Linked DNA regions of Homo sapiens. The protein of the gene in region 6 interacts with the protein of the main gene of each other region in a pairwise test. Each region holds a gene or a part of one and is shown on either strand. Other genes may lie near its edges. The genes, in order: MTIF3, CCT2, CISD2, BRK1, GORAB, VKORC1L1 and AGT.

Region 1 (2,711 bases), on a different chromosome or scaffold from region 6:
ACAACTTTAAAACAAACAGAAGAAAAGACAGAATGGTTTGTGATCTCAGGATAGGGGATGGAACTCATTAAGAAAAAAAGGCAAAATGAAAAATCTAACTGGGATACGGTTTTTTCCATCATACACAACAGAGAACCCTATAAATCGGAGAAAAACCATCTACGTAGAAAAATAAAGGAATATAAACACGCAATTCACAGAAGAAAAAAGTGAAATACACATTAATTTCTCACCATTAAAATGACAAATGAGGGAGGAGGTAGAGAAACTGCATACACTGCTGCTGAGCAGTTTGATCCATTTAGGTTCATAGACCCTAGAGTATGCACCAGGGTTCATCATAAAGATTGGGGGCCAGGTGTGCTGGCTCACGCCTATAATCCCAGCACTTTGGGAGGCTGAAGCAGGCAGATCGTTGGAGCTCAGGAGTTCAAGACCTGAGCAACATAGCGAGACCCCATCTCTACAAAAAAAAAAAAAAAAAAAAAAGGCCAGGCATGGTGGTGTGCACCTGTGGTCCCAGCTGTGTGGGAGGCAGAGGTGGGAGGATTGCTGGATCCCAGGAGATGGAGGCTGCAGTGAGCCGAAATCACACCACAGCACTCCAGCCTGGGCAACAGAGCAAGACTGTTTTTTTTTTTTTTTTTTTTTTTTTTAAACACAGGGTCTCGCTCTGTCACCCAGGCTGAAGTGCAGTGGCATGATCATGGTTCTTCACTGCAGCCTTTGCCTCCTAGGCTCAAGTGATCCTCCCACCTCAGCCTCCCAAGTAGCTGGGATCACAGGTTTGCACCACTACACCTTGCTAATTTTAAAATTTTTTGTAGAGATGGGGTTTTGCTATATTGCCCAGGCTGGTATTGAATTCCTGAGCTCAAGCCATCCACCTGCCTTGGCCTCCCAAAGTGCTGGGATTACAGACGTGAGCCACCACGCCCAGTGACCTTTTTTTTTTTAAGTGACATAGTTTGACGTCATTATCCTCCCTGGTTGGTCTCTTCTGAATATTGTTTTCCAGTCAACATCCTTGTTAAATGTGGCATTACAAAACTGAGCCGCAGATAACATGTGGTTTTCTGAAGGCACACAACCTCACGATGCAGTGCTGGGAGCAGTCATCTGATGCCTGTCCCCGTGCGCCATCCATTGAACTTTCATAATGATTGGCACTTTTTAGGAACTATGAAAAACAAACATCTTTGCTTAATATCCAATTCCTGACTTCTGTGAGGCTTAAATGACAAGTGCCTCGTCAAGTGACTGGTTGTATATCTAAGAGTGTTGCTACTGATATTGCAACACAATGCTTTGGCATGGGAGATGCTCTGTGAATCACTTCAGAGTCGAAAAGGTGCTTCCAGGCTAGGCGCAGTGGATCACGCCTGTAATCCCAGCACTTTGGGAGGCCGAGGAGGGCAGATCACTTAAGGCCAGGAGTTCAAGACCAGCCTGGCCAACATGGTGAAACCCCCTCTCTATTAAAAATACAAAAATTAGCCGGGCGTGGTGGCGGGCGCCTGTAATCCCAGCCACTGGGGAGGCTAAGGCAGGAGAATCGCTTGAGCCTGGGAGGCGAAGGTTGCAGTGAGCACACATCGCACCACTGCACTCCAGCCTGGGCGGCAGGCAGAGACTCATCTCAAAAAAATAAAAAGGTGCTTCCAGATAATTAACCAAACACCTCCACTTTAGAGTTGAAGAAGGGGAAGAAAAACAAAAGGAGGGAGGTTAAATGAGTGGCCCGGCAGAGGGCAGGGAACTTGAATGTACCCCTCCTAATCTCACTCTGTTTCACCCCATCGGCTACTCAGCTTGCTGCGGCATTGGGAGAAGGCCACAGGACAGGGGAAAGAGTTCTCTTCACTTTGGTTTGTTTGCCTGGTTTCTCCCACATTTTACACAGGTTTAAAGGGAAGAGATAATGGGCAGGGTATTGTGGAAAAACAGTGAAAAAAAGGGAACAGGAGTAAGTGCAGGATAAAGGAGGAAAGACAGACACTGGGAATGGTGGTTGAATCATGAATTTTCTAGTTTCTCATTTCCCTCTTGTCACAGGCACCTTGACAAATGCTAGAATTTAAACTGCTGATTTGTAGCTCTTAAAGGATTCAGGGAGCCAACAGCAAAATACCTACCAGTTTTGGGGTTCGCCTTCTCCATCTCCCTCAGCCTCTGCCGCTCCTGGAGGATCTGCAATCCTGTCATGAGCTGATACTCTGCAGGTTCTGTGCTGGTGTTCCTTTGAACCAGTCGCAGGTCTCGCTCATCCATAAGTCTAATCACATTTGCTCGGTGCATGTTTCCCAAATCATTGCCCTTCTCATCAAATAAGTGAATAACTCGCTGACTAATTTTTCTTCCAACGTTACTAAAAGCTGTTTTATTCTTTTTTGTCTTTTTTCCTTCATTCTGGGTGTCTTCAGCGGTACTAAAGGCTTTTGCATGAATTAGGAAGGAGAGTCTTGGGGCAGAAGCAATAGGGGACAACTGTGCTGGTGCTGTCTTTTGCAGGATGTGTTTACCAAAACATCTAATGCAACTATTTTCAGACTTTACAGTTTGTAGTGTTAACCTCTTTAGAAAAAGAGCAGCCATCCTAAGAAAGTAGTAAGAAGAGTTCATTAAAATTCAATCACTTATTCCCTTGGTCTGACATTGTGGTACATGGCAGGGTGTGTGTGAGGTTGTGGAGGCTGTAACTGCAAGTGTGA
Region 2 (3,306 bases), on a different chromosome or scaffold from region 6:
CTATGAAATTAGAAGTTAATACTGATTGTATAAACAACATAATAGTTTATGTTATTTTTCAGAATGTAAGTATTGTTTATATTTAAATCCTATAGTCGTTATATACCAAATAGTTACAAATCTTCTAACCAGTTTTACATGTCTTATGGAATAACAAAGTTTGGGAAATGCTGAGCATATAAAGTCACACACATTTTCCCAGCACATGTAATGATTATGAGGACAAAGTCCAAAAGAGTCTTTTATACGGTTATTGTAACTCTTTATGTTCCAAAAGAAAAAAAAAGCTTAGTGAAAAGAGTTACTTTTAACAACGGCCACAAAGTTCCCCTTGATTGCTTACCCAATCCAGCAGTGGTATTGCCTTCACTGTGAGCAGCCCTGAGCTGTGCCACCAGGTCTGCACTGTCATAGCCTGCATTGTCAGCTATGATGGTTGGCAACTATGAAAATGAAGAAAACAAGTAACTACTCACTCTACTGTAAGAACCACTGATTTACTCCTAACTAGGATAGCTTTTTAAAATTATACATTTAGGAACAATGTAAAATCTGCTTCAGTTACTGCTCACGAAGAGGAGAAACTCCAGAATCAAATTTAAAAGCAGTATTAACCAGTTCATTTTCTACTCATTTTAAAACTATCAATAACCACAAAACTTAAGTTCGGATCTCTCATTTTGATTAACTTACCATTCTCAGTGCTTTAGCATAAGACTCCATTGCAACAGCTTCTTTGCCTGGTGTTCTATTGGCAAGCTGTGTCACAGCATGAGCCATCAACATCTCAGAACAGCCTAAAGATTAAAATTCCAATAAAATATTGCAATGCTTAGTTGTCTCCAAGATACTGAATTACTGACTTTAAGATATGCCAAGCATTTTAAAATTTAGTGCAAAAGCAATATAAGATTTCTGTAAGAACCATTAAAACCACTTATGACTTATATTGTACTTTAAGAAATTAAAAATATATTCAACATTTTCTAAATGCTTACCTCCTCCATAAACTGTTCTAGAGTCCTTTACAGTTTGCGCAAGAACACAAAGAGCATCATGCAATGATCTTTCTGCTTCATCTAAAATTTGTTGAGTGGCACCACGCAAAACAATGGTACAAGCCTCACCTAAAATTAAAAGACACAGTGACCACTTAGGGATAAAAAGTTTGCCTTCTATTATTTATGCCGGTGTTGGTTATATTACTGGGTTCTGAAAGCTGACCTGTCTTCCTGTATTATACATTCTCCAACAATCAAGGCTCATAATGGTTCTAAGTTATCAAGGAAAAAAAACTGTTGAACATGCACTGTTCACAAAGACACGGTAAATATGAGGTTGACTCAAGAGACTGAAACAAAGTATGTATCATGCTTCTGAAGAGTTAAGACTTGTAAGATATGCTATTCTAGTAACTACAATAACCTTTACTTCAACAGAGCCTAGCAAGAATTTAGACACCCTAACCAGGATCTACATAATCACTCACCAAGGGCAACCCCAGAAAAGTGAATGAGTTTGTCTTCTCCAATCATGACTTCCTCGATAAGTTTGCAACTTCCAAGCTTCACCAGTTCTGGGTGATCAAAGGTAGAGGCAATTTCACCACCTATAAACATAAACATGTATTAGTTAAATGCACAGCAGGCTTAAAATTCCTGTTTTCTAATAAGCAGTAATGGATAGATAATGATAGGTAATGTGTTTCACATTTTAAAAATTGATTGCTGATTATATTCCTGGCACTCTTTTTAAATACTTCATATCGACTAATTATTTAATCTTTAAAATAATCCTCTTGGATAGGCTCCATTATTATCCCATTTTACACATGATAAAAATGAGGCCAAGAGGTTTACCTTCCTATCCAAAGACCTAACTAGGATGAATATAAAAAGCTGGGGTTCAAACTCAAGCAGTCTGGCTTCAGACCTATAAGCACACACTATACAATACTACCTTCCCAAGGTTAAACTGAGTCTTAAAGCAGTTACTTTTGAGTTTAAATTCAGATTCTCTTCTGAATCCAACCTATAAGACTAAGACCTCATGATACAATTCCCAGCACAAGACATGAAAATATTTGTCCTATAAGTCAACCACTATACACTTCATGAACTGCTTAATAAGCACCTGATATCTCTAATTATCACAAATGAAATGTCCTAAGGCCTAAAAAAACAAGAAATGCATACTAAGAATTTCCCAGACCAAATTTAATAAGAACAAATTAATTTAGTCCTTATGTCTCATTTCTATTCCTATTTTCCCTCCATCTTCCATGCTGTAAACTGAACAGGTCAGCCACTTCGTTCCCTATTTCCTAACTAAGCAAAAGTCAGGTTTCCATTTCAAAATCCTTTTCTCTAGCTGACTACTCCTTTCATAATGTGAATTGCATATATTATCAATCAACCCTTCTTTTCCTATGCCTTACTGATAAATCTGTCAATGCTCTATTATTTATTTTATAATAAATTCATAAAGACTCTGGTCTTTGAAACTACTAATTTATACTCATAATTTGTATAAAGTTCTTTTTACTTTTGGCTGGCAAAATTCTGAGACTGCTTTGTGTTCTAGATGTGAGACACAACAGATATTTGGGACGTCATATCCAAAAATAAGACTAACTTGGCTTATGAAACTTTTCACTTCATCCTTCTACATGAGACTTTTCTTTCTTTTTAAAGAGAGAGTGTCTTGCTACCTTGCCTAGACTGGAGCGCAATGACTATTCACCAGGCACCATCATAGCACAACCTCCTGGGCACAAGCAATCTTTCTGCCTCAGCCTCTTGAATAGATCAAACTGCTGGCACATGCCACCATGCCCAGTGCAAGACATTTATTTAATGACACTTGCAAGAACCAATGTCATCATACACCTTTGACAACCACTGAGCTTTTAAGGATGGGAGCCACCATGTGGTCACCTTCATAGACATACAGTTGGTGTACTTAATAAACATTCTTCTGGGTATAGAGCAATTTCATGTCAAGACCTTACGATATGTTTATCCCATCAATATATTATTACCATTTACTTCTTACATCTTTTTTTTTTTTTTTTTTTGAGACGGAGTCTCGCTCTGTCACCCAGGCTGGAGTGCAGTGGCGCCAATCTCAGCTCACTGCAACCTCCACCTCCCGGGTTCAAGTGATTCTCCTGCCTCAGCCTCCCGAGTAGCTGCGACTACAGGCACCCACCACCACGCCTGGCTAATTTTTTTATTTTTAGTAGAGACAGGGTTTCACCATATTGACCAGGCTGGTCTCAAACTCCAGACCTTGTGATCTGCCCAC
Region 3 (3,500 bases), on a different chromosome or scaffold from region 6:
TTTCCTGAGGCCTCCCTAGTCATGCGTAACTGTGAGTCAATTAAACTTATTTCTTTTATAAATTACCCAGTTTGGGGTAGTATTTTTATTTTATGTTTTTATTTCTTTTATAGCAGTGTGAAAGCTAATACAGTAAATTGCTACAACAGAGAGTTGGGTACTGCTATAAAGATACCTGAAAATGTGGAAGCAATTTTGGAACTGGGTAACTGGCAGAGGTTGGAACACTTTGGAGGGCTCAGAAGACAGTAAGATGTGGGAAAGTCTGGAACTTCCTAGAGACTTATTGAATGGTTTTGACCAAAATGCTGACAGTGATATGGACAATAACATCCAGGCTGACGTGGTCTCAGCTGGAGATGAGGAACTTACTGGGAAATGGAGCAAAGGTCACTCTTGCTATGCTTTAGCAAACAGACTGGTGGCATTTTGCCCCTGCCCAAGAGACTGATGAAACTTGAGAGAGAGATGACCTGAAATCGGAACTTAGGTTTAAAAGGGAAGCAGAGCATAAAAGTTTGGAAAATTTGCAGTCTGATGATGCAACAGAAAAGAAAAACCCAGCTGGGTGCTGGTGGCCCATGCCTGTAATCCTAGCACTTTGGGAGGCTGAGGCGGGCAGATCATGAGGTCAAGACATCGAGACCGTCCTGGCCAACATGGTGAAACCCCGTCTCTACTAAAAATACAAAATTAGCTGGGCATGGTGGTGCACACCTGTAGTTCTACTCGGGAGGCTGAGGCAGGAGAATCACTTGAACCCAGGAGGCGGAGGTTGCAGCAAGCTGAGATTGTGTCACTGCACTCCAGCTTGGGTGACAGTGTGAGACTCTGTCCCCCTCCTTCCCCCCGCCCCCCCAAAAAAAAGAAAAACCCATTTTCTGGGGAGAAATTCAAGCTGGCTGCAGAAATTTGCATAAGTAACAAGGAGCCAAATATTAATTGCCAAGACAATGGGGAAAATGTCTCCAGGACATGTCAGAGGTCTTCACAGCAGGCCCTTCCATCACAGGCCCAGAGGCCTAGAAGGAAAAAATGGTTTTGTGGGCCAGGCCCAGGGCTTTGCTGCTTTGTGCAGTATTGGGACTTGATGCCCTGTGTCCCAGCCATGGCTAAAAGGGGCCAACATACAGCTTGAGCCACTGCTTCAGAGGGAGCAAGCCACAAGCCTTGGTGGCTTCCATGTGGTGTTGGGCCTGTGGGTGCATAGAAGTCTAGAATTGAGGTTTGGGAACTTCACCCTAGATTTCAAAGGATGTATGGAAACACCTGGATGTCCAGGCAGAAGTCTACTGCAGGGGTGGAGCCTTCATGGAGAACCTCTGCTAGGGCAGTGCAAAGGGGAAATGTGGGGTTGGAGCCCTCACACAGAGTCCCCACTGTGTCACTGCCTGGCAGAGCCATGAGAAGGCGGCTACCTGCTCCAGACCCCAGAATGGTATATCTAACAACAGCTTGCACCATGCATCTGGAAAAGCCGCAGGCACTCGATGCCAGCCCTTGAAGGAGCTGCCCAAGGCCATGGGAGCCTACCCCTGGCATCAGTGTTCTCCAGATGTGACATGGGGTCAAGGAGAACATTTTGGAGCTTTATGATTTAATGACTGCCCCACTGGATTTCAGACTTGCATGGGCCCTGTGGCCCTTCTGTTTTGGCCAATTTTGCCCATTTGGAATAGGTGTATTTACCCAGTGCCTGTACTGCCATTGTATCTTAAAAGGAACTAACTTATGTTTTATTTTACTGGCTCATAGGTGGAAGGGACTTGCCTTGTTTCAGATGAGACTCTGTACTGTGGACTTTTGAGTTAATGATGAAATGAATTAAGACTCTGGAGGACTGTTGGGAAGGCATGATTGATTTTGAAATGCAAAATGAATGTGAAATTTGGGAGGAGCCAGGGGTGGAATAATATGGCTTGGCTCTGTGTCCCCACCCAAATCTCACCTCTTATAATCCCCATAATTTCCACATGTTGAGGGAGGAAACTGGTGGGAGGTGATTGGATCATGGGAGTGGTTTTCCCCATGCTGTTCGCATGAGATCTGGTTTTATAAGGGGCTCTTGCCCTTTCACTCCTCACTCTTCTCTCTCCAGCCTCCTTGTGAAGAAGGTGTCTGCGCTCCCTTCTACCATGACCGTAAGTTTCCTAAGGCCTACCTAGCCATGCAGAACTGTGAGTCAACTAAACCTCTTTCCTTTATAAATTACCCATTCTTGGGTATTATCTTTTTTTTTTTTCCAGATGGAGTCTTACTCTGTCACCACGCTGGAGTGCAGTGGCATGATCTTGGCTCACTGCAATCTCCACCTCAGGGGTTCAAGTGATTCTCCTGCCTCAGCCTCCTGAGTAGCTGGGATTACAGGTGTGCATCACCAAACCCAGCTAATTTTTTTGTATTTTTAGTACAGATGGGGTTTCACCATGTTGACCAGGATGGTCTCGATCTCCTGACCTCATGATCTGCCCACCTTGGCCTCTCAAAGTACTGGGATTACAGGCATGAGCCACAGCACCTGGCCTCTTGAGTAGTTACCTTTATAGCAGTGTGAAAACAGACTAATACACCTACTATGTAGAGATACTGTGCTAAATGCAAATACAGTAGCTGTCTTATTTATATCTATGTAACCAGTGCTTAGTAATTTGCACATAACAGGACTTCAGTAAACAACTAATTCAGTTTATCTGTGGTATAAATCCAGATTTTCATATACTTGGAACCAGGTTTCTTTTGTCTGTAAAGCAGGAATAACAACTGTAAGCTCATTTGTTCAACAATATTTACTTAGTACCTACCACACTCCACAAACTGCACTATGTGGGGATACAGGCTAATAGATAAGGTCCCTTCTCTCATAGGGTATATATTTCAGAGGACAGAGACTATAAACAAGTGAACAAATAAACAAGATGATCACAGACTATAGTAACTGTTATAAAGGAAATAAAGGATGACATAAGAGAAAAACTAACCTGGGGCAAAGCAGTAGGGTGGCTGCAATTTTAGGTAAGGGGTCAGGGAAGGTTTCTGAAAAAAGAACCTTTAAGCAGAGACCTAACGAATGAGAAGCCAGGAGCTCAAGCACTTGAGCGCAGAATTTTCAAGGCACAAAGAAAAGTAAAGAGTCTTCTAACTTCATAGGATTGCTGGGAGAAACGAATGAAGTAGGAACCCACTCAGTAAAAACTACAGAACACAATTCAAACTATTAATGCATTCTGCCTTAAAACTATATAGTTAGGTAAATATTTGTCTCCTCCCCAACTAAACAAAAAATCCCTAACTCCCTACCCTTTAACAGAGACTTACATAAACCAAGACCTCAGTAAGTTTTAGCCTAATTGAGTTTGTACTCCAATAAACTGGCATTTGAGATAATTCCTACAAGGTCTGTACTTACTTGTCTTTGTTCATGGCTTATGAATAATGACAGTGTAAGTTAAAATACAGGAAGACTACTTAAAATATTTAAGAAAAAAACTTTCAGCACCTTC
Region 4 (3,500 bases), on a different chromosome or scaffold from region 6:
GAGGCGGGCGGATCACCTGAGGTCGGAGTTCAAGACAAACCTGACCAACATGGAGAAACCCCATACCTACTAAAAATACAAAAAAAAAAGAAATCCTGTCTCTACTAAAAATACAAAATTAGCTAAGCATGGTGGCGCACACCTGTAATCCCAGCTACTCTGGAGGCTGAGGCAGGAGAATGGTTTAAACCCAGGAGGCGGAGGTTGCAGAGAGTCAAGACTGCACCACTGCACTCCAGCCTGGGCAACAGAGCGAGACTCCATCTCAAAAAAAAAAAAAAAAAAAAAAAAAGTGGCCGGGTGCAGAGGCTCACGCCTGTAATCCCAGCACTTTGGGAAGCCGAGGTGGGTGGATCACCTGAGGCAGTGAGCCGAGATTGCACCATTGCACTCCAGCCTGGACAACAAGAGTGAAACTCTGTCTTAAAAAAAAAAAAAGTTTGAGGAATATTTAATGAAATAGGAAAATATTCATGTTACGAAACCAAATGATATTTATGTACTTGTAATTTACAATTTATTTACATGTCTGTTTCACCGTTAGAACAAGTTAATCAAAAGAAGTACATATTGCCTCTTGTAACCTTAGCATCTTGCCTGGTACATAGATGTTGACTGAAAAAAAAAAGATGGATTCTGGTATATTAGTGGAACAAAAGATTGACTCTAGTGTAACTCTATTCACCTTACAAGTGGGAAAACTGAGGTCTAGGTAAGCTGAGGGCCCATGTTGGGTCACTGGTATTCTTTCCCATACTGTGTGCATCCCAATGCACACTACTATCATCTTTCTGTGCCTCCGGGGCTATAATTTATACCCCAGGTCTCCAGCCCAACTCTGCCACTTTCCATTCTTTCACCTGCTTAAAGTATACAATTCAGTGGTTTTTAGTATACTTACAGAGTTGTGCAATAATTATAATCTACTTTTAGAATATTTTCATCATCCCCAAAAGATACCTTATACCTCTTAGTCCTGTCACTCCCCATTCTGTCACCCCTCAGTCCCTGGGAACCACTAATCTTTGTCTCTATGGATTTGCCATTTCTGGACATTCTTCATTCTTTTTACGCTTGTGCTGCTTGAATTCCCAGGTCTAGCTTAAGTATGATCACTTCAGCATCCCCCTTTTCCTGGATGTACTGCCACTTTCTGTCGGAACTGCCCAACAGGACCAAGCCTCTTTTCAGTCTGGTTTTTGGAAGTCTGAAAGCACGTTATGTATGCTACTGAGTAAGAGCATGAATATTATCTCTGACAACCTGCCATTTCCCATGAAGACATACGAAAATTATTGGGGGAGGTAGGAGAGAGGGAAGTTTCCTTCCTGGGTGGCTATTCTGTTCTAGCTGTCAATCTGGTAATGAATTAGAATTCAAGAACAATACTATGCTCCTGGCCTACATGGATAAACACTGTTGAGAAATAGAAAATGTTCAACTGCAGAAACCTTGGTCATATTTCAAATCCTAATAAGTATACGCTGGTTCAAATAAAAAACACTGAGAAAGCATTCAGCAGCTGGATAAATCTGAAACCAGAGCACAAGTATGTGTACATTATCACCAGCCTTTAACTGAAAATACCAGTTCTCGTTAGGAAACAAATGCTGTTATCAGACAGCTCCTTCTCTGAACTTAATGCATATAACTTCAGCATTACAAAAATCAATACTGTCAGGCCGGGCACGGTGGTTCACACCTGTAATCCCAGCACTTTGGGAGGCTGAGGTGGGCAGATCACTTGAGGTCAGGAGTTTGAGACCAGCCTGGCTAACATGGCAAAACCCCATCTCTACTACTAATACAAAAAGTAGCTGGGCATGGTTGTGTGTGCCTGTAATCCCAGCTATTTGGGAGGCTGAGGCAGGAGAATCAGTTGAACCCAAGAGGCAGAGGTTGCAGTGAGTCAAGATTGCACCACTGTACTCAAGCCTGGGCAACACAGCAAGACTCCATCTTAAAAAAAAAAAAAGAATTAGCCAGGCGTGGTGGCGCATGCCTGTAGTCCCAGCTACTCAGGAGGCTGAGGCAGAAGAATCGCTTGAACCCGGGAGGCGGAGGTTGCAGTGAGCCGAGATTGCACCACTGCACTCCAGCCTGGGCGACAGAATGAGACTCTGTCTCAAAAAAAAAACAAAAACTGTCTTTCTTTTGGAATGTTTTTGTAGTTAAGTCTTACTTTTCCAGCAAAATTCTGAATGTCTTAGGAGTGGGTATCATACCCATTTATTCATATTTATTCCTTTCTCACAGCATCTGACACACACCAGGCATGCTACATTTGTTGGCTCAGTACAAAAACCAAGATTTTAAAAAAACAGCCACATTCTCTATTTTGTCTTTATACTTCTCTGCATATATTACCTTTAGAACCAGAAAAAAATAGCATAAGAATAAAAAGCGATAATCTCTAACCATCTATTTTTAGAAACTTCACCAATTCCAAAGTGCAAAATAGGCCTAGTGTTATGATATTTTTGCTACATTACGATTTGTATGTCCTCAAGTTCACGTGGGAGACTGTGACTCTACTCTCACCAGCAGGAATCACAAGGTAAATGCTTTTCAGAAAGTCATTCACTATCTTAGAACAACAGTTCTCTCTCCAAAATACATGGCCCATGCAGATTCTCTGTGGTCAGGGTAAGGACTACAGAATTGCTAACATATTTGAAGAACTTCAGATGCTCCCTCAAAGTAAATTCTTTTTCTTTGAGAGAGAGTCTCACTCTGTCACCCAGGCTGGAGTACAGTGGCACGATCTTGGCTCACTGCAACCTTTGCCTCCAGGGTTCAAGTGATTCTCATGCCTCAGCCTCCCAGGTAGCTTGGAATTACAGGCATGAGACACCATGCCTGGCTAATTTTTGTATTTTTTATAGAGATGGGGTTTCGCCATATTGGCCAGGCTGGTCTCAAACTCCTGAGCTCAAGTGATTCACCTGCCTCGGCCTCCCAAAGTGCTGGGATTATAGGCATGAGCCACTGTGCCTGGCCTCAAAGTAAATTCTTTTTTTTTTTTTTTTTTGAGATGGAGTCTTGCTCTTTCGCCCAGGCAGGAGTGCAGTGGCGCGAGTGCAGAGCTTGCAGTGAGCCGAGATCGCACCACTGCACTCCAGGCAACAGAACAAGACTCCGTCTCAAAAAAACAAACAAAACAAACAAACAAAAAAAACCATTAGGAAAAGGAAATATATTTACTATTCATTAAATGGCAGTGGATCATCATAAAGGTCTTCATCCTCATTGTCTTCCTGCTGAGTAGGCTGAGGAAGAAGGGGAAGAAGAGAGGTTGGTTTTGCTACCTCATGGGTGGCAGAGGTGGAAGGGGAGGCAGGAGAGGTAGGCATACTGTATAACTTTTATCGCAATAAATCCACTTATGGCCAGGCACAGTGGCTCATGCCTGTAATCCCAGCACTTTGGGAGGTTGAACAGAGGTGGATCACTTGAGGCCAGGAGTTCAAGAGCAGCATGGCCAACATGGCGAATCCTGT
Region 5 (3,500 bases), on a different chromosome or scaffold from region 6:
AGTGTAACAGAGTAAGATAGAAAACTGAGTCATTAACACAGCATTCCCTTGTGAAAAAAGACAAACCAGGATGATTAAAGCAATGTTGAAAGGGCTGAAAACCCTGAAATTGGACATATTTTTTTGCCCTTTTATCTGTCTGCAAAGTCCATGTAATTCATTACATGTGTTAGTTCATTTTAAAAATACTCCATGGTATTTTTTCTCTTTTAAAAAATGCCAATGGTTGAAACCAAGGAAACATATATTAAACCATTTCATACAGAGTATAATTGAAAGGAAAAAAAAAGAGAAAATATTTCAAATTTCCAAGACAGAGGATATGCTTAAAATATTCATAAGCTTTTAAAAACTAAACTAGATCCTCTTACTCTGATGAAAGCTAAAGTGAGGACTAGACTTCAATCCTATAGGACTATATCAGATATCAAAAATTTTAATGGAAAGAACACAGACTTGGTGTCAGAGTAACAGTTTTGGCGAAACCACTCAGATATTTACTTTGCTAGATGCTGAAAGATGAGCAAAAACACTTCCAAACATTAAATAGCTGAGGGTTTCGCAGCAAAGACTAAAACGTAAATAAATAATGCAAGAACTGCTCTAATGGCACACGAACAAGGTTAACTAGTAGGGCAGAGTTAAGGAAGACTTCACTGAAGAGGAGACACTTGAATTAGCACAAAAGAAGAATAAATACAGCACTGAATGGGGTTGTTTTGAGGCTTCAATGATGATATACATAAAAGCCCCTGGAACAGCTGGCAATAAACATTAATTAAATCATACTCCTTGTTCAGATTCAATTTCCCCAACTCACCGAGCGTATGAATAGTCTAAGCTGGCCTGATCAATCCGGTTCCTGAGAATTCCAATGTCAGCTGACACCATGTCATCTAAAGCCTGCAACTCCTTCTGGATCCGCTTTAGTTTCATGGTCTCTGCCTGAGTTCTTTTGGATCTAGAAAATCAGGTATGTGAGTGGGAAAATAAGAACATTTTAAAACCATGTGTCCATATACAATGTAAGTGAAAAAGCAAGATACTGCATATACATTTATAATTTATATTTTAAAAGTTAGAAAAAAATCAGAAAAATTGAAATAAAGTAAAAGCTGGTTAACATTTGAGTTTTTGAAATTTTATATTTGCATGTTTCATAAAGTAACAAATAAGTCTAAAAAAACTCAGCAAATAGTTCATTTTAGATTGATATTCATTCTGTAAAGAGAACAAACACTAAAAGAATATATCTGTGTTCCCTTTACATTGAAACATTCAACAGAGCTTTCCAAATTTCTAGTCTTTAATTCTTCCTCTTGCTAAGCCCATTTTCATTTGTCTGATACTTACCTGACATTAAGAACAGATAGATGTCTATACTAAACCACACCTCTTTATATATCTGAGAACATCCACTTAGTTTTAACTTTCTTGGGACCCATTTCCCCAAACTTTTATTGCTTTGATTCTTGTTCTCTAGGAAAACTACTAGTTACGAAAATTCTTTATGGAGCTGAACATCAAAACACTCATTTTCCTTATTTAAAAGCACATCCAACCTCATAATTTCTCAATCCCCTCTCCCAAGTACAATATATACTTAAGAAAGGGAACAAACAAATAAAAAAGCAACCCTTTAATCATGATTTCACTCATTTCAAATTTTCACACACATTGTGAAGGAAGAAGAAAAATCCCCACATAAATCCACCATGTTACATAGCACATTCTCTTGATTTCTACTCTTAGGCATTTACCCTTCCTTTCTGCCTACAAAACTTCACTTAACAGTATGATTCTTTTACGTCAAGTACTTCATTGTCCATTTATTAATAGTTCAAACGTTGTATTTCCTTACACTTCTGTTTATACTGGTGCTGTCTAAAATCAAAAGCACTTATGAGAAGAACTGCTGAGCCTGTACATCTTTTTGTAAAACCACAGAAAACAGCCTTCCCATCTCTTAGAAATTGAAGACTACTAAAATGCTTTAATTATTTTTAAATAATCACTTACCAAAAAAAAAAAAAAAGAGGGCACTACTCTTTTATCTGCTGGTTTTTTCCTTTGAAACATAGTAACTCAGTGAGTTGCATTATTTCCTATGCTTCAAGAAAGATCAAGGTGTACCAGTAGTAGAAAAAGAAAAATCACCATTTCTCAACTACACTCACTCCTCTGGCAGACAAAATTCTGAACTACTCTTATACCCATCACCTTCTTCCCTCTTCTCCTGCCCCTACACATACTCTAGCTTCAAGCAGTAACAGTTTGACAGACTTTTCTGGAAGTCTAAAAAGAAAATGTACTTCCTTGCATTTAGTTTTCACTATTCACAACCATGGATATATTGACTAAGTTTAGTTTCCTAAGGCCACAGGAGATTAGACAGAAACTACAAACTCAGCAAGAGTGGTGGGGGATGGGAAGAATGATTCCAATGGGAATGTTGTTGTGTGCGGCTGGTACAATGCAGTAAATGTGAAGGGGCTGCTGATAGACACTGGAAGGTGAAAGAAAAATTGAATCTCACACAGTGCTCATAATAATGACCCTGAGTCATCAATAAAAAGTTAAACTATATCATGTATCTTCTACTTGTGGAGGCGGGGCAAATTATTTAAGAAAAATGCCCATAGGAAATCCAATTAAGATTCATGGGAGTATGTCACTTATGTAGAAAACCTTATTCCTCTACACATCAAATGATTAAGGCCTCCCCACATAAAAATTAAAACTTGCATTTGTTGCTAATTTACATATACTGATAGCTATTTACTGCTTCCCTTATGAATGTGTAGATGGTTAAAACTGGGAGCACTAATGAAGGTCTTTAAAACTGCAACTATATTTACAAATTTAATATGCTCTATGCTTAAAAAGTTCTCTTTAATAAATTATAACTAGTATTTCAGTATCACTTATAAAGCATAATTTGTTTAGTTAGTCTTAAAAGTAATGGTTGAAGAAAAAATATCAGTTTATTAAAAGAGACATGGGAAAACAAATATAACACATGACACAACTGGTTACAGGTTACAAACAGCCTCTCCTGGTTCAGGTGCCTCACCTTTCTGCAATAGCTTTAGCCAAAAGAGCTTTTTTACGTTTATTTTTCTCTTCCATTAGCCGTTGTTCTTGTTGGAGGACTTCCCAACGAGATTTTTCTTGCCTAGGGGGCAAAAAAAGCATAAAAATGAGTTTATGAAAGAAAAAGAAACTGCTACCCTATCCAACACCTTACCAGTCTCAGTCCTCTAAGTATAAAATTTAATCAAGAAGATTTATGTATATGTTCTTTCAAAAGTCCTCTTAAAAGAAACCCATCTGCAGTTCATTATTTTGCTCTAATGGGAACAAAGACTACGATCTAAAGTAAAGAGGCTTACATAAATTGGACCTCTGAAATCCATTATATATATAATCTAGGAATCCACAAACTGGAAGCCAGAATACTGTGGCATGTGTTTAGGAGTACAAAGAAATTTGTGTAAGTT
Region 6 (3,500 bases):
TTATGGATGATTGGGCAGTCTTATGTCAAATTTGTTTTGTTTTGATGGCATGGTATCAAGAAAAACCGGATTCACAAAGATGAATAGATGATAAAGCATGTTTTGCCAATGATAATGTTTTGTGTGTGTTTTTTAAATAGTACATTAACGCTATCTAAGGATTTAATTACACCTGTCCAGAAGTTTTAAAAGTAAAACATTTCTAAATTAATTATGTAATAGTGTTAAGGAATGAATACTTGGTAGTCGTAAACATTTTGGTAAAAAATAAAAACTTTACAATATGTACTAATCCTGATATATGCATTAGGCAGTCATGTTATTGCATAATGCAACAGTTCTAATAGTACTGAATGTGCTTATATGTTACATGAACAAACAAGCACTAGCCTAAAATTTCAAAATATCAACATAAAGCTACAGTCTTACTAATCAATAACATTTTTATCCTTTCTAACTCTGAGGAGGAAAAAAAAGGAAAGAAAAAATTTTAATTAAAAAATAAAATGGCATTTTAAAAGTTTCATTTCTATACACAAAGTGAGACACTCTATTCCAAGGATTATTGTCCTGGGTGTAAGCATTATAGATAATTTACATTTTCTTCCTTTTGCTTATTTTCTCTCAAATATTCTAAATGCACTTTTTTTTTTTTTTTGCTTTTTTACTTTTTATTTTATTTTATTTTATTTTTCAGACGGAGTTTCACTCTTGTTGCCCAGGCTGGAGTGCAATGGCGTGATCTTGGCTCACTGCAACCTCTGCCTCCTGGGTTCAAGCAACTCTCCTGTCTCAGCCTCCCGAGTAGCTGAGATTACAGGCATGCACCACCATGCCCGACTAATTTTGTATTTTTAGTAGAGATGGGGTTTCACCATGTTGGTCAGGCTGGTCTCCAACTCCCGACCTCAGGTGATCCACCCGCCTCAGTCTCCCAAAGTGCTGGGGTTACAGGCGTGAGCCACTACACCCAGTCTATTTTATTTTATTTTCTTGAGACAGAGTTTGCTCTGTCGCTCAGGCTGGAGTGCAGTGGCATGATCTCAGCTCACTGCAACCTCTGCCTCCCAGGTTCAAGTGATTCTCCTGCCTCAGCCTCCCAGGTAGCTCAGACTACAGGCACCCACTACCATGCCCGGCTAATTTTTGTATTTTTAGTAGAGATGGGGTTTCACCATGTTGGCCAAGCTGGTCTTGAACTCCTGACCTCACGTGATACATCCGCCTCAGCCTCCCAAAGTGCTGGGATTACAGGCATGAGCCACTGTGCCTGGCCAACTTTTTATTTTAAAATTACTATAATTATAAATCACAGGAATTTACAAAAAAGTACACAGGGAGGTCCCAAGTACCCTCGCCCAAATTCCTCCAATCCTGAGTTTATTCAGGTTTCACCAGTTTTGTATGCAAAATGGGACTTGAGTACGCTAGGATTTATATGCAGTATGTGTGTGTGTGGTTGTATGAAGTTTTTATCACATTTGCAGCTTTGTATAATCACACCTGAGACATTGAACTGTTCCATCCCTACACAGCTCCCTCATGCTACCACTTTATAACCACACCACCCCTCACCTCCCATTCCTAACTCCTAGCAACCACTAAATCTGTTCTCCATCTCTGCAGGTTTGTTATTTCAATAATGTTACATAAATGCAATCATACAGTATGTAATCTTTTAGGGTTCTCACTTGTTTTCACTCAGTATTAACTCTCTTGAGATAACCTGGCAGACAAATCAGTTGTCTCTAATATATTAAAATTTAGCATGAGATTCATTTGACTGTGTATAAACATTTATAATATTTTAAACTTAAAACATTAAAATGTGAATCAAAGGTGTATGAAATCCCTGTTTCATTGACAGAGAACAGGGATTCTGAGATACAAATTTTGAAAACTGGGAATCTAATACAAGCCTAGTACAATGTAGTACAGGTTGAATATTCCTTATCTGAAACACTTTGGAGCTGAAATGCTTTGGATTTGGGATTTTTTCAGATTTGGGAATATGTGCATTATATACCGGTTGAGCATCCCAAATCTGAAAGTTCAAAATCTGAAATGGTCCAAAATCCAAAACTTTGAGTGCCAATGACACTCAACGGAAATGCTCACAGGGGCATTTCAGATTTTGGATTTTCGGATTAGGGATCCTCAACCTGTACAATAACTTTATAGAAGAAAAGCTCAGGACTCAGTGCTATGTCTTATCAGTGTTTACAAGAGTACATGGTTTATAAGAACGCCTGGTTTTGCACTTGCTATGGGCAAGATCTAGATTCTGGTTCTTTCCCAACCCAGTTGAATATGTTACATTCAAATATGACCACTTGCTGTTCTTCTCAAATGACCACAGTTTGCTACCCTTTCAAGTTCTTCCTAATGATTGAGGAAATGAACTCCTCTTAAATTCCCAGATCTGTGTGGCGCTTTAGCTAGCACCACACCTCAGGTCCAATTCTCCTGTCTTTATATGCAGCAGGTCCACACGACAAGGCCTCCCTCCGAAAAAGCTACCCCAATCTAGGACAGATTCAAACAAACTCTTTTCCCTCCCCCTCCCTCCATGTGCCCAGAACCCCTTTCTCCTTCCTCCCTAGGCTAACCTGCTAAGTCTTCCGGACAGCTCACTACACCGTCTATCTGTTAGTTAACTGGGTGTGACAAACCACGTCCTCACACCTTAGAAGGCAAACACTCCAGGAACTTACTTCTGGAATACCAATACCTTCACAGTAATTTCCCTGCCTTTCCAAAGAGTGCTCTAAACAGGTAAAAGTGATACCACAAACTCTATATATTTTTGTCACATAGATACAGAAACTGGCACCATTGTTTGCATATTTAAAAAATCTGGTTGATATGGTTATCACTCTATCAATATTAGATCTAAATGGAATTTAAAGTAGTGGTAAAAGGCTGGGCGTGGTGGCTCACACCTGTAATCTCAGCACTTTGGGAGGCCAAGTGGGAAGACTGCTTGAGGCCAGGAGTTTGAGACCAACTCAGGCAACAAAGTGAGACCTCGTCACTATGAAAAATAGAAAAAATTAGCTAGGCATGGTGGGGTGTGCAACTGTAGACCCAGCTACTCAGGAAGCTGAGGTTGGAGGATCACTTGACCCAGGGAGGTTGAGGCTGCAGTGAGCCATGACTGCACCACTGCACTCAGCCTGGGGAGACAGAGTGAGACAATGTCTCAAAAAGTTAAAGAAGAAAGAAAAGAAAGGAAAGAAAAAAAAAGGAAAGGAAAGAAAAAGAAAAGGAAAGAAGGAAGCAAGGAACGAAGGAGGAAGGAAGAAGGAAAAATAAAGAAAAGGAAGGAAGGAAGGAAAAAGAAAGAAAAGAAGGAAGGAAAAGAAAGAGAGAAAAGAAAGGAAAGGAAGAAGGAGGGTGGGAGGGAAAGGAAGAAAGGAAGACGAAAGAGTAGTGGTAAAGAGCTTGGACTCTTGAGCCAGACTGCCTGGGTTAGAATCAGGCCTCTGCCACTGTACTAC
Region 7 (3,500 bases), on a different chromosome or scaffold from region 6:
TCCCCTTGCACGTTCCCTGCAGGGACCTCGGTGCTGCCCACCTGGGCTGGCAAGGCTTTTAGTTTAGAGGGGGGAAAGGGACAATTCTTTTCTTCCAACAAACTAAACTAAAAAAGGGAAGCTGCCTCCCAAAAGACGCTGGGATTTGACATGAGAGTGGCTGCCGTCTTCCCTCTGCTCGTCTGACATGCACAGCTCACCATTCTCATCCGGAGGCTAGGTAAATCTGTCGAGGTCAAGTCAGGACCTGGTGTCATGGAAACCACCAGGGCCAGCGCCCCATGCTCAGGAGCACAGCAAGCACTGGGCAGACGGTACCCTGGAGCCCATCAGGCCCCAGATCCTCAGGTCCTCTCTAGTGGGACACATCTAGCTGCCTGCTGAGGTCATGTAAATAGAACATCATTGCTAAAGGGAAACCTAGAGGTCCCGAGACAGCCCCCGATCTCCTCACTGGACAGACCATGTGGGCAGGAAGTGGCTGCCTCCTTTGACGGAAACTGAGGCCAGCAAAGTTAGGAAGTGGGGCAGGGTCAGGGCAGCATGCGGTGGAGGCCGGCGAGGATCCTGGGCTTCCTTTGAGTCCCGATGTGGTTGGCTTTTTTATTCTTCCTCCTCTTCCTCCTGGCCTGGCTCTGCGGTCTGGGTCAGGTGGATGTGCTCTCTTTCGAAGGGAGACCCATTTCAGATGCCACTGGCTTTCTTGCCTTTGCCTTCTGCAGGACCCTCCTTCTCAGTGAGCGCTCCTCCCAGCACTTCTCCTAGGGACAGCAGGCTAAGTCCATGTGTCCCTGCTCTGCCCTGCACAGTGTGCTGCCACCCTCAACCGGGCAACCCTCGGGCTGGCCTCTGCCCCTGTGACCAGTCAGTGCCAGGGCTGAGCAATCCCCCCATCTATCACCTCTCCCTGAACCCGAAGGGAAAGACCTCAAGGAGGTTGTTGTGGTAAGAAAAATCACTATGCGCCACTGAACCTCTTTCTCCACAGTCTTGTCTTTCACCTCCCGCCTGGCTCTCTGTCCCTCACGAGGTTAACATCTTGACAGAGCCTCCTCAGTGTCTCTTAGACACACCCCTCAGCCCCACCCCACCCATGGATTTGCCGAGCTGCTCCCTGAGCACGTGTTCCCGTGACTGTGTGCCTGGACTCTTGCGTAACCTTCAAACAATCCTCCCTGCCTCCAGTCTGCACACGGCAGGCTTCCGGGATGACCTCTGAACAGAACGCGTCCCCATTCCCACACCTACCAAGCATGGCGTTCAAAGTGTCTCCAGCTCTGCCCTCCCCAGGCCCATTTTCTGGTTCAACACTCATGCCAAGCCAACCGCCCCATCCTCGTTCCTTGCCCCAAACTCTGCAGGCTGGGCTCATCATGCTTGCTCCTAGCTTCACCAGCCCTGTTGCCCTCACTGCCAGGCAAGGCCTGCTCTCCGCTCCCCAGTGACCTCTGTCCTCTGAGAGCCCCGAGGCTTCCCTGAGTTACCTTGTGGAGCACGTTTCCCTGCAGCTCCAAATCCTAGGCATTTGCCCATTGACCTTTAAAAGCCTGGAGGCAGGGCCTATACAGCCCTCCTCTGGCCTCCTCTGAGATGCCAGGCTTAAAGTCTTACAAGTAGCAAATCCTCAACAAGTATTTGTTAAATGAATGCTTTAAGCAATCTGTGGCTGGGTGCAGTGGCTCACACCTTTAATCCCAACACTTTGGAAGGCAGAGGTGGGAGGATCGCTTGAGGCCAGGAGTTCAAGGCTACAGTGAGCAATGATGGCACCACTACACTGCAGCCTGGGTGACAGAACAAGACCCTGTCTCAATAAAAAAAAAAAAAAAAATCAACAATCTTTGTAGTAGAGGGTTTTCAGTAATGCCCCTCCTAACATGAAAGGGATTTAAGCAAGCCAATTGCTTATTTCTGCATGGGCCAGGGACCCCAGTTCCTGACCTTCTCAAGAGATATGAACCTGACCCTTCTGAGTGTAGAACTGGGCTGTGGGGCCAGGAGATGTGGGTTTCAATCCCAGGACCCCCACTGGTGGCTGTGCCATCTTGAGCAAGGCACTTTGTTTCTCCGAGTCTCTATTTCTTCACTGGTAAACAAAGGCACAAATACCTCTTCACCACATCATAAGGGGATTAAATGATGTAAGAAAAAGGATGTTGTATAGTCGTGCACATAGTAGGGCAGCAGGTCCAGGAGGTGGACGGCCCATCCAGGGACCCAGCGGAGCAGCCACTTCCCCACTTCTCAAGGGTGGTCACCAGGTATGTCCGCAGGGCTGCCCCCTGCCCATCTCCAAGGCCTGACTGGCTGATCTCAGCTACACATTGGATACTAAGTCCTAGGGCCAGAGCCAGCAGAGAGGTTTGCCTTACCTTGGAAGTGGACGTAGGTGTTGAAAGCCAGGGTGCTGTCCACACTGGCTCCCATCAGGGAGCAGCCAGTCTTCCATCCTGTCACAGCCTGCATGAACCTGTCAATCTTCTCAGCAGCAACATCCAGTTCTGTGAAGTCCAGAGAGCGTGGGAGGACCACAGGGGTATAGAGAGCCAGGCCCTGCACAAACGGCTGCTTCAGGTGCAGGCCTGGGGCTGTGAACACGCCCACCACCGTGGACAGCAGCAGCTGGGCCTGGCTATCAGCCCTGCCCTGGGCCACTAGCAGGCCCTGTACAGCCTGCAGGGCAGACAGGACCTTGTGCGCATCCAGCCGGGAGGTGCAGTTCTTGTCCTTCCAAGGAACACCCAGGATTGCCTGTAGCCTGTCAGCTGTGTGGTCCAAGGCTCCCAGATAGAGAGAGGCCAGGGTGCCAAAGACAGCCGTTGGGGAGAGGACGGTGGCCCCATGGACCACGCCCCATAGCTCACTGTGCATGCCATATATACGGAAGCCCAAGAAGTTGGCCAGCATCCCGACCATTGCGGCCCTCAACTTGTCTTCGGTGTCAAGTTTTGCAGCGACTAGCACCAGCTGGTCCTGTAGGGCCTTTTCATCCACAGGGGATGTCTTGGCCTGAATTGGAGCAGGTATGAAGGTGGGGTCTTTGGGCTTCCCGGCATTGGCCTTTGCCAGCTGCTCACAGGTACTCTCATTGTGGATGACGAGGTGGAAGGGGTGTATGTACACCCGGTCACCTGCAGCCAGGCCAGCCCAGGCCAGGAGGCAGAGGATGGTGGCCCTCAGGCTCACACCGGCAGGAGCCATCTCAGACTGGGGTGCTCGCTTCCGCATACCCTGAAATATCATTTTGCAAAGGGTGAAAGGTGGTTATTAACTGACCTTTAAGTGCCATCTAACCAGATCTTTCATTGTCTCAATATTCCCTGTCACCATTTAGCCCAGAATAAATCCATTCATGTCTACAAAAAAAAGAAGAAATGGATTCAAAGCTCCATGGAAAATATCTACATGATCCAAGTGCAAAATGCACCAATATCAGCTGAATTATGTCCTACCTCCCCCAACGGCCATAATGCCCGTGTTGAAGTCCTCAACCCCAGGAC

The links.
Region 1: the proteins of VKORC1L1 (region 6) and MTIF3 interact in binary tests that used the Homo sapiens proteins (3 or more experiments, as listed by UniProt).
Region 2: the proteins of VKORC1L1 (region 6) and CCT2 interact in binary tests that used the Homo sapiens proteins (3 or more experiments, as listed by UniProt).
Region 3: the proteins of VKORC1L1 (region 6) and CISD2 interact in binary tests that used the Homo sapiens proteins (3 or more experiments, as listed by UniProt).
Region 4: the proteins of VKORC1L1 (region 6) and BRK1 interact in binary tests that used the Homo sapiens proteins (3 or more experiments, as listed by UniProt).
Region 5: the proteins of VKORC1L1 (region 6) and GORAB interact in binary tests that used the Homo sapiens proteins (3 or more experiments, as listed by UniProt).
Region 7: the proteins of VKORC1L1 (region 6) and AGT interact in binary tests that used the Homo sapiens proteins (3 or more experiments, as listed by UniProt).

What each region holds. Positions count from the first base shown.
Region 1 is NC_000013.11:27,437,854-27,440,564, forward strand, and holds part of MTIF3 (translation initiation factor IF-3, mitochondrial), read right to left. Parts: intron 2,597-2,711; 5' UTR 2,596-2,596; coding exon 2,136-2,595; intron 1-2,135. UniProt on the Homo sapiens protein: IF-3 binds to the 28S ribosomal subunit and shifts the equilibrium between 55S ribosomes and their 39S and 28S subunits in favor of the free subunits, thus enhancing the availability of 28S subunits on which protein synthesis initiation begins.
Region 2 is NC_000012.12:69,595,459-69,598,764, reverse strand, and holds part of CCT2 (T-complex protein 1 subunit beta), read right to left. Parts: intron 1,610-3,306; coding exon 1,490-1,609; intron 1,128-1,489; coding exon 999-1,127; intron 798-998; coding exon 694-797; intron 444-693; coding exon 344-443; intron 1-343. UniProt on the Homo sapiens protein: Component of the chaperonin-containing T-complex (TRiC), a molecular chaperone complex that assists the folding of actin, tubulin and other proteins upon ATP hydrolysis.
Region 3 is NC_000004.12:102,875,492-102,878,991, reverse strand, and holds part of CISD2 (CDGSH iron-sulfur domain-containing protein 2), read right to left. Parts: intron 1-3,500. UniProt on the Homo sapiens protein: Regulator of autophagy that contributes to antagonize BECN1-mediated cellular autophagy at the endoplasmic reticulum.
Region 4 is NC_000003.12:10,118,675-10,122,174, reverse strand, and holds part of BRK1 (protein BRICK1), read right to left. Parts: intron 1-3,500. UniProt on the Homo sapiens protein: Involved in regulation of actin and microtubule organization. Part of a WAVE complex that activates the Arp2/3 complex. As component of the WAVE1 complex, required for BDNF-NTRK2 endocytic trafficking and signaling from early endosomes.
Region 5 is NC_000001.11:170,542,166-170,545,665, reverse strand, and holds part of GORAB (RAB6-interacting golgin), read right to left. Parts: intron 3,176-3,500; coding exon 3,074-3,175; intron 962-3,073; coding exon 821-961; coding exon of another isoform or gene 817-820; exon of another isoform or gene 1-816.
Region 6 is NC_000007.14:65,879,574-65,883,073, reverse strand, and holds part of VKORC1L1 (vitamin K epoxide reductase complex subunit 1-like protein 1), read right to left. Parts: intron 1-3,500. UniProt on the Homo sapiens protein: Involved in vitamin K metabolism. Can reduce inactive vitamin K 2,3-epoxide to active vitamin K, and may contribute to vitamin K-mediated protection against oxidative stress.
Region 7 is NC_000001.11:230,707,623-230,711,122, forward strand, and holds part of AGT (angiotensinogen precursor), read right to left. Parts: intron 3,232-3,500; 5' UTR 3,202-3,231; coding exon 2,373-3,201; intron 1-2,372. UniProt on the Homo sapiens protein: Essential component of the renin-angiotensin system (RAS), a potent regulator of blood pressure, body fluid and electrolyte homeostasis.